Linked DNA regions of Homo sapiens: region 1 is linked to region 2. The links come from fine-mapping of genetic effects on gene expression. A gene starts in region 2. The other region holds a variant in brackets. All regions are shown on one strand. Distances are from middle to middle.

Evidence for each region. PIP is the estimated chance that this variant, and not a neighbour inherited with it, causes the effect. A credible set is the group of variants that fine-mapping cannot tell apart.
Region 1: its variant is the best candidate, but not a certain one, in a credible set for the expression of CA6 in CD4 T cells (BLUEPRINT, PIP 0.54).

The regions. Positions count from the first base shown.
Region 1 is chr1:8,964,125-8,968,508 of GRCh38, forward strand. CA6 (carbonic anhydrase 6) reads left to right here. Exons shown (of 8, transcript NM_001215.4): 6 at 3,535-3,692. Among named protein-coding and RNA genes, the nearest start is that of CA6, 20 kb to the left of the region's middle. The variant CA/C (reference allele first, on the strand shown) is at 1,762.
Region 2 is chr1:8,943,495-8,947,878 of GRCh38, forward strand. It overlaps CA6 (carbonic anhydrase 6), which reads left to right and starts at 2,374. Exons shown (of 8, transcript NM_001215.4): 1 at 2,374-2,471. The coding sequence starts at 2,393.

The DNA of each region.
Region 1 (4,384 bases), 21 kb after region 2:
ATCCCTGCTCTTGTCAACACCACCCCTCCCACGTGGGGCCCAACCCCACTCCTCTCCCATGCTCAGGGCCTCCTTTCCTGCTATTCTCTCCCTGGTCTTCTGCATCGTTGATTTCTCTCTCTCTCTCTCTTTTTTCTTTTTGGAGATGGAGTCTTGCTCTGTCACCAGGCTGGAGTGCAGTGGCATGATCTCAGCTCACTACAACCTCCGCCTCCCGGGTTGAAGTGATTCCCCTGCCTCAGCCCCCTGAGTAGTTGGAATTACAGGCACACACCACCATGCCTGGCCAATTTTTTGTATTTTAGTAGAGACAGGGTTTCACCATGTTGGCCAGGATGGTCTCGATCTCCTGACCTTGTGATCTACCCGCCTCGGCCTCCCAAAGTGCTGGGATTACACGCATGAGCCACCGTGCCCGGTCTGCATCGTTGATGTCTTACTCTTTATTAAAGCCTCCTGCTCAGCACACACATCTGCCCTAATTCCTCCCACCTCCAAACACAAGCAAACAAACGTTATCTCCTGACCTTACCATTCCCCAGCTTCCCCCAGTTCTCTGGCTCCCCTTGAAAAGGTCATAGAATAGTCCTGTTCTCCATTCTCACCCACCCCACCCTGAGCTGGCCCCAATGCTCCACGGAGCCGGAGTGACGGTCAGATCTATGGGCCACTCTTCTTCTCGTCTTAGTTTACCTTCAAAGGGTGGTCTGGCGCGCCCCAGCTCTGCCCTCTCACTCTCTTTCTGGCTCCTGCCCTAAATGTTGGGTGGAGTCAGGCTCTGTCTCATCTCAGTGACTCCACGCAGTCCCACAGCCTGAATTAAAACTTACCACTTAAGGCTGGGTGCGGTGGCTCACACCTGTAATCCCCTCACTTTGGGAGGCGGAGGCGGGCTGATCACCTGAGGTCAGGAGTTTGAGACCAGTGTGGCCAACATGGTTGAACCCCGTCTCTACTAAAAATACAAAAATTAGCCAGGCATGGTGGTGCACGCCTGTAATCCCAGTTACTCGGAAGGCTGAGGCAGGAGAATCGCTTAAACCCGGGAGGTGGAGGTTGTAGTGAGCTGAGATTGTGTCGCTGCACTCCAGCCTGGACGACAGAGCGCAACAACATCTCAAACAACGACAACAACAACAAACTTACCCCTTAAACCATTTTAAATGTACAGTTCAGTAGCATTAAGAACATTCACAGTATGATGCAACCATCACCCCGCTCCATTGCCGGAACTTTTTTTCGTCTTCCTAAACTGAAACTCTGTACCCATTCAACAGTTACTCCCCATCTCCCCTTCCAGCTTCTGGTAACCACAGTTTCTGTCTCTAAGAATTTGACTATTCTAGGTACCTCATATAAGTAGAATCAAACAGTATTTGTCTTTTTTTTTGGTCTGGATTATTTCACTTAGCATAATGTCTTTTAGGTTTGCCCACATTGTAGCATGTTATCAGAATTTCATTCCTTTTAAAGGCTGAAGTGGCTGGGCGAGGTGACTCACGCCTGTAATTCCAGTACTTTGGGAGGCCAAGGCTGGCAGAGCACTTGAGGTCAGGAGTTTGAGATCAGCCTGGCCAACATGGTGAAACCCCGTCCCTACTAAAAATACAAAATTAGCCAGGTGTTATGGAGGGTGCCTGTATTCCCAGCTACTCAGGAGGCTGAGGCGGGAGAATCGCTTGAACCCGGGAGGCAGAGGTTGCAGTGAGCTGAGATTGTGCCACTGCACTCCAGTCTGGGTGACAGAGTGAGACTCTGCTT[CA/C]AAAAAAAAAAAAAGGCTGAAGTATATTCCATTGTGTGGATATATGATATTTTGTGTATCCATTTATCTACTGGTGAACATTTTGGTGGCTTCTACCTTTTGGCTATTGTGAGGTAACGCTGCTATGAATATAGGTGTACAAGTATCTCTTTGAGTCCCTGCTTTCATTTCTTTTGGGTAGATAGGAGTAGAATTGCTGGGTCACATAGTAATCTATGTTTTTTTAATTTTAATTTTTTTTTGTTTTTTGAGACAGAGTCTCGCTGGGGCGGGAGTGCAGTGCCTTGATCTCGGCTCACTGCAACCTCCGCCTCCCAAGTTCAAGCGCTTCTCCTGCCTCAGCCTCCCGAGTAGCTGGGATTACAGGCACGTGCCACCATGCCCAGCTAATTTTTGTATTTTTAGTAGAGACGGGGTTTCATCATGTTGGCCAGGCTGGTCTCAAACTCCTGACCTCAGGTGATCCACCCGCCTCGGCCTCCCAAAGTGCTGGGATTACAGGTGTGAGCCACCATACCTGGCCGTATGTTTATTTTTTGAGGAACTATTATACCATTTTCCGTGGTGGCTGCATCATGATTCTGGAATTCTTGACTTTCACTTAAATATATTAGAGTTACAAAAATAAATCTCTACCACAGAGCCCTTTTGGAGGTTATATCTTGAAATCTTCCAATAATAATCAAACTTAGAACTCTTTTGCCTACTCATGGGCTTATGCACTCTGAGACATTGTGGCCTTGGTTGAACAGGCCTATCTACGTATGTATCAAAACTATGTTCTCTGCCTTTAAGAAGCGCAGAAGTGCTCAGGGAAAGTGAAGCAAAATCCAACTCAATCCTGTGTTGCCTTGAGAGTCTTGTGCTGAGCTCAGGGGCTCAGTGTTGTTGACATGAATGAAACAAGGACCTCTCTAGAGCAGGAGCAGGTGTGGCTGCTGCAGGAGTTTTGCAGGCCTGGTGGAAGTGGCCCCACCCTACGCCCCACCTGTGGCTGGGCTTGGTTTCCAGCGGTTGTGGCAGGAAGAGCTCAGGACCAAATGCCTGTACCTGGACCCTGGCTTGGTTCTGATTCTGCATTTATTATTTAAAAAAATAATAAAAAAAACAACTTATTGTAGAGACGGGGCCTCCCTGTGTTGCCCAGGCTGGTCTTGAACTCTTGGCCCCAAGCAATCCTCCCGCCTTGGCCTCCCAGAGTGTTGAGATTACAAGCGTGAGCCACTGCGCCTGGCCTGATTCTGCATTTACAACTGTTGTCTACCCACTTCTCAATGAGCCCAAACCAAGGCATTTTGGTCTTTCTTCAAGGGCACTTACCCAGAAGTCTCCAGGGGCCATATTTATTTCTTTCATTGATCATAAAATGTGTCCTCTGCCTAGCCATGATAATGGTGACCGCAGCAGTTACACTTAGGAGTACTTCCCTATGTAGTGGTTCAATGCCAGCTGCTTTCCAGACGTTATTCCTTCTTACCCTCACAACAATCCTGCTGATTATTCCCTTTCTACAGATGAGAAAATGGCCGCAGGGTGAGCACCCGGCCAAGAGCACTCAGCCAGGAGCAGGTGTCTGAGTGCGTCTATCCCCAAAGTCTCTCCTCTCAATCCCTTCCAGGAAGAAGTAAACTGGGAAATTGTTTCTTAATCATCAGCTTCTATGTTCTGCTGAACTCAAGAGATTGGAACCTGGCGAGGCCTGGGCCTGAGCTGTCCTCCCGAGGGGCAGCGCTGGTCCCTGACATTCTGTTACCTTCTGTCTTCTTGGTCAGGACAAAGAACAACCCTGACTGGCCTTGACGTTCAGGACATGCTGCCCAGGAACCTCCAGCACTACTACACCTACCATGGCTCACTCACCACGCCTCCCTGCACTGAGAACGTCCACTGGTTTGTGCTGGCAGATTTTGTCAAGCTCTCCAGGACACAGGTAATGTATGGTATCACTTTGCCGAAGTCTTCCCATTCGATTGCCTGGTTAACAAGGGTTCTCCCCAGCATCTCAACGAACGTCAACAACTAAGGGGTCCTACAGTATTTTCTGTGTGCAGGGCTACTGTGCCTCGTCTAGCCAACCTTTTTTTTTTTTTTTTTTTTGTGAGACAGAGTCTCGCTCTGTCACCTGGGCTGGAGTGCAGTGGCACGATCTCAGCTCACTGCAACCTCCGCCTCCCAGGTTCAAGCAATTCTCCTGCCTCAGCCTCCCGAGTAGCTGGGACTCCAGGAGTGTGCCACCACGCCCGGCTAGTTTTTATTTTTAGTAGGGACAGGGTTTTATTATGTTGCCCAGGCAGGTCTCAAACTCCCAGGTTCAAGCAGTCTGCCTGTCTCAGCCTCCCAAAGTGCTGGGATTACAGGTGTGAGCCACTGCACCCGGCCATCTCCTTTTCTTAAACTTTTCATTTCCTTAGAAAAAGGTGGAAAAGACCCCTGCTCAAGGACACTCACACTCCAAAATGTTGCCAGTCAGGCTAGAAGTGCCCCCAGACACCTGACAAAAGCAAATGGTAAATTATCTCTGGGAAAATGACCTTAAATCCAGACCTAGAAGAATTTTCACAAATAAAGTTACTTGAAATTAGCTCAATTAAGAAAAAAAAATACAAAACATATGAGAAAAAA
Region 2 (4,384 bases):
AGTATGTGCACTGTATTTTAAGGAGCTGTGTGAGGCAAGGAACGCCCCAGAGCTCTCCTGGGAAGCCCCAAATGCTCACCGCAGGGCAGTGAGACCCGTGGGGCTGGGAGCTGCCAGGAGTGGTGGGCCCTCTGCATTTCACTGTGCTCTCCCGCAAGCACTCCTCTCTCTGACTCTCCAGGGCCCCTCTTTGGGCAGTCTTCCCCTCCCCCTTGGCCCAGGCTTTCTCTGAGCTCCTTCCTGCTCCAGTTCCCCTCGCCTGGGCTCATCCAGTCCTCCCAGGCTTCCGTGACAGCCTGACATTTTAGTCTCTGCCTGCCTGCAGCTCCCTGATTCTTTCTGGGTCTCCCAATTCAGATTCCCAAGAAAAAATTCAGATGACTGAGTTTGTGTTTTCCTGCCAGTTTGATGTCAGGGGTCCTGCCTGGGCTTGTAAAGGGTCTTGGTCTCCTCAGCAGAGGTGGGGCCTTGTGATTTACAAGGTGGCCCTTTCCGCAGGGCTGGGAGTCAGCAGGTGGGCGTCACTGGTTTAGCAAGGACAGAAGAGTAGGTTTCTCATTTTTGCAAAGAAATGGTCCATAAGCTGGAGATTGAAGCATTTTTCCTCCAGTTCCCTCACTAACCAGCTGGGTGGCAATGATAAATCACTTCCTTTTCCTATAAAATGAGGGGTCTGAATAGATGCTAATGCCATTTGCTACACACCAGGCACTGCTCCAACTACTGCAGGCACATTTATTGCCGAATCCCCACAAAGGAGGTGCTATCACTAACTCCTTTTAAAGAAAGGAGGCGGCCAGGTGCGGCGGCTCACGCCTGTAATCCCAGCACTTTGGGAGCACGAGGCGGGAGAATCGCTTGAGTCCAGGAGTTTGAGGCCAGCCTAAGCAACATGGTGAAAACCTGTATCTACAAAAAGTACAAAAATTAGCAGGGCGTAGTGGCATGCGACTGTGGTCCCAGCTACTTGGGAAGCTGAGGCAGGAGGATTGCTTGAGTCCAAGAGAAGTGAGCTGAAATCGTATCATTGCACTCCAGCCTGGTGACAGAGAGAGACCCTGTCTCAAAAAAGAAAGAAAGAGAGAAAGAGAGAAAGAAAAGAAAGAGAGAAAGGAAGAAAGAAAGAGAAAAAAGAAAAGGAAGGAAAGCTGAGGCACAGAGCGCTGAGTTGCCCATGGTCACACAGTTAGCAGGTGGCACAGATCCTGTCTAGTTTCAGAATCCTTGTCCTTGAACATGCTTTGCTCTCTCTCTGAGATTCTTTCAGCTCTTGAGCTTTAGAAATGGAAGTTTCCAGCAAGTTCTTTGCAGCAGCTGATGTTCCCTATTAAATGACAGTGGGGAGTCTTAGAAGTATTCGGGAGGCCTACGTTCACCGCTAACATCCTTGTTGTGAAGGCCTGCTGACGTTTGCCATTCCAGGACCAAGTGGACAATGAGTTAAGCTAGGCCAGGAGGGGGTTCAGCTCCCCATAACAAGGCAGGGGTGGCCCTTTGTGTCCGGCAGCATGGTAGCCCCCCCGCAGGAGCTCCGGCTACCCTTTGTGTTTGACCTTGTGGAAGGGCATGGGAAATGCTGGCCTGTCAGCAGGCATAAACTCAAAAGTTTCTCCTTCAGCTAATTTCAGGGACTGTCTAGCCAAGTGAATACACAGGATTAGGTAATCCATGGATCCTGCGAGGGCAATTGGCTGATTGGCTTAGGTGTGCCCAAGAGCCCTGCAGGTGTCAGAACAAATCCATGTAGAAATGCAGACGCCCACACCAGCTTGAATGGCATAAAGGCACACATTGGAATGTGGCTCATGAGCTGGGACCCAGGATCAACCACTGGTTTAAGGAGAGGACCGTGAAATGTCCAAACATGGAGGCCAGGCCACCTCCCTGGATGCCTGGCTGAGGGCAGCCACATGTCTGCAGCGGTGGCTTGTGTCCATGACTGAGATGGGCAGGGTTTGCAGGCAGTGGTGATCCCATCAGCAGTCCCCAGATCTCTAATGTCAGGAGAAAGAGCATGGGAAGTCCGACGTCCAGGAAAGTCTTTCATCCTGCTTCTCCCTGCCTTGGGCCTTTTCCCATTTCCGCGGTCACCTGTCCACAATGGCTGCACTGTGTGGCTCTTCAGGTGTTCCTAAGACACTGAACAACCAAACCCATGGACTGACCGGATATGAAATTGACGTGGGAGGAGATCAGGCAGGTGCTGGGGCTGCCTGGCGCAATGCACGGAGCCAGAAGTGCTGTTATGGGGAGGGTGTTATTGTTTTAGTGGGTGCAGCAAAGGGTGGTTTAGCCAGCTGGGCAGATCAATTGTAAATTGTTATTTACAGTTTCTGAGCCTTTAAAAGAAGAGCTTCGCCGGAATCAGTCTTCATTACAGATGTGCAGCACCATGAGGGCCCTGGTGCTTCTGCTGTCCCTGTTCCTGCTGGGTGGCCAGGCCCAGCATGTGTCTGACTGGACCTACTCAGGTGAGCCCCTAGCTTCTGCATGCTCCCCCAGTTACCCTCACACCCTTACAACAGGACAAGTGCCCTTCTTCTTCTTCTTTTTTTTTTTTTTAGACAAAGTCTTGCTCTGTTGCCCAGGCTTGAGTACAGTAGTGTGATGTTGGCTCACTGCAACCTCCGCCTCCCGGGTTCAAGTGATTCTGCTGCCTTAGCCTCCCGAGTACCTGGGATTACAGGTGCCTGCCACCATGCCTGGCTAATTTTTGTATTTTTAGTAGAGACAGGGTTTCACCATGTTGTCCAGGCTGGTCTCGAACTCCTGACCTTAGGTGATCTGCCCATCTCCCAAAGTGCTGGGATTACAGGCATGAGCCATTGCGCCCGGCCAAGAGTCCTCCTTTAGGGCATTTCACAGGATGGCCAGGCAGCCCACTTGCCATATGTTGGGGGTCTGCTCATTGTGGCTTCAGATGTTACCTTTTCAGTGTCTCAGAAGGTATGGAGAATAAGCTGAACTTAAACTTCAAATAAGGAAAAGAAGGAAATAGCTTTCCCCTTCACAAACTCCTGATTTACTTACAGGCTTTTTGCTTTAAATTTTTTTCCATCCACAGTGTTGGCTGGTTCAAAAGCACACTCACTGCTTCTATTTGTAAAACCATTTGCTTTGTTGGTCCGTGTAAGTGGAAAACAAAGTTCTTAGAAAAGACTCTCGGTAACCTCACGGAAGGTGCTGTGGGGTTTGCGAGACCTTCTTTCTTGGAAATTTCATGGTAGGCAGTTTACCCAGAACATCTTGACATAAGGACCCAGTTCCCTTTGATCTGTGGGCTGCCAAAATGAGAGGTGTTTTTTTTTTTGTTTTTTTTTTTTTTTTGAGACAGAGTCTTGCTCTGTTGCCCAGGCTGGAGTTCAGTGGTGCCATCTCGGCTTACTGCAACCTCTGCCTCCTGGTTTCAAGCGATTCTCATGTCTTAGCCTCCCAAGTAGCTGGGATTACAGGCACTCATCACCATGCCTGGCTAACTTTTGTATTTTTAGTGGAGATGGGGTTTTACCACGTTGGCCAGGCTGTTCTCAAACTTCTGACCTCAAGTGATCCGCCCACCTTAGCCTCCCAAAGTGCTGGGATTACAGGCGTGAGCCACCGCGCCAGGCCCCAAACCAGACTTTTAAAATGTGAAATGTAAAATCCTGGCATTCAACATGGGTTCTGGTCCACATGTGAGCCAAAGCTAGAAGGCCGTGTCTGTGGACTTTGTGGACACTAAACAGCCCTTTCCAGGGGCAGTGAGGAGAGCTTCTTCCCGCATCCCCCTTCTTTCCATACGGGACCATGGATTGGGGCCCATGAGGAGGCTGGTGGCCGCTGGCTGATGCAGGAAGTGAGACAAACATCTGCTTCCTGCAGAGTCTGCCCCAGTTCAGCTGCTCCGGAAGCATTCCTTCAGGGTGAACGGGATGATCTGTTAAGTCAAGGGCAACGGAATTAGGGACATCCTGGGAGGTTCAGAAAGTCCAGCCAGCTCTGAACAACCGCTCTGTTCCTGAGGACAGTGATCTTACACATGGCAGTGCCTCGGAAGCCTGGGGCATTCTGCTTCACTTGGCCAAGCAGTGCAGGCAGGTGGTTCAGAGGTGAAGGAAGAGAGAATTCAGACAATGAAGTCCTTGTCCTTCCCAGGCTCTGCCCAGCCTCTGAGACAGTGGGCTTCCTGGGAAACTACTAGGGGCTCCAGGAGAACTTGAGAGTAGCTTTTGTAAATGCCTTCCAGGGAAACCTGAGAGATGTTCCAGTATTGACAGTGCCCTGGGCCAAAGCATCTTGCTCTGAGAAGGCGTTGTGCTCCAGGCCAATTGCCTTGATTACAAACCAAAAAGCGGTGAGGGCCCTAGTACAGACACCTTTTTTTTTTTTTTTGAGAGTTTCACTC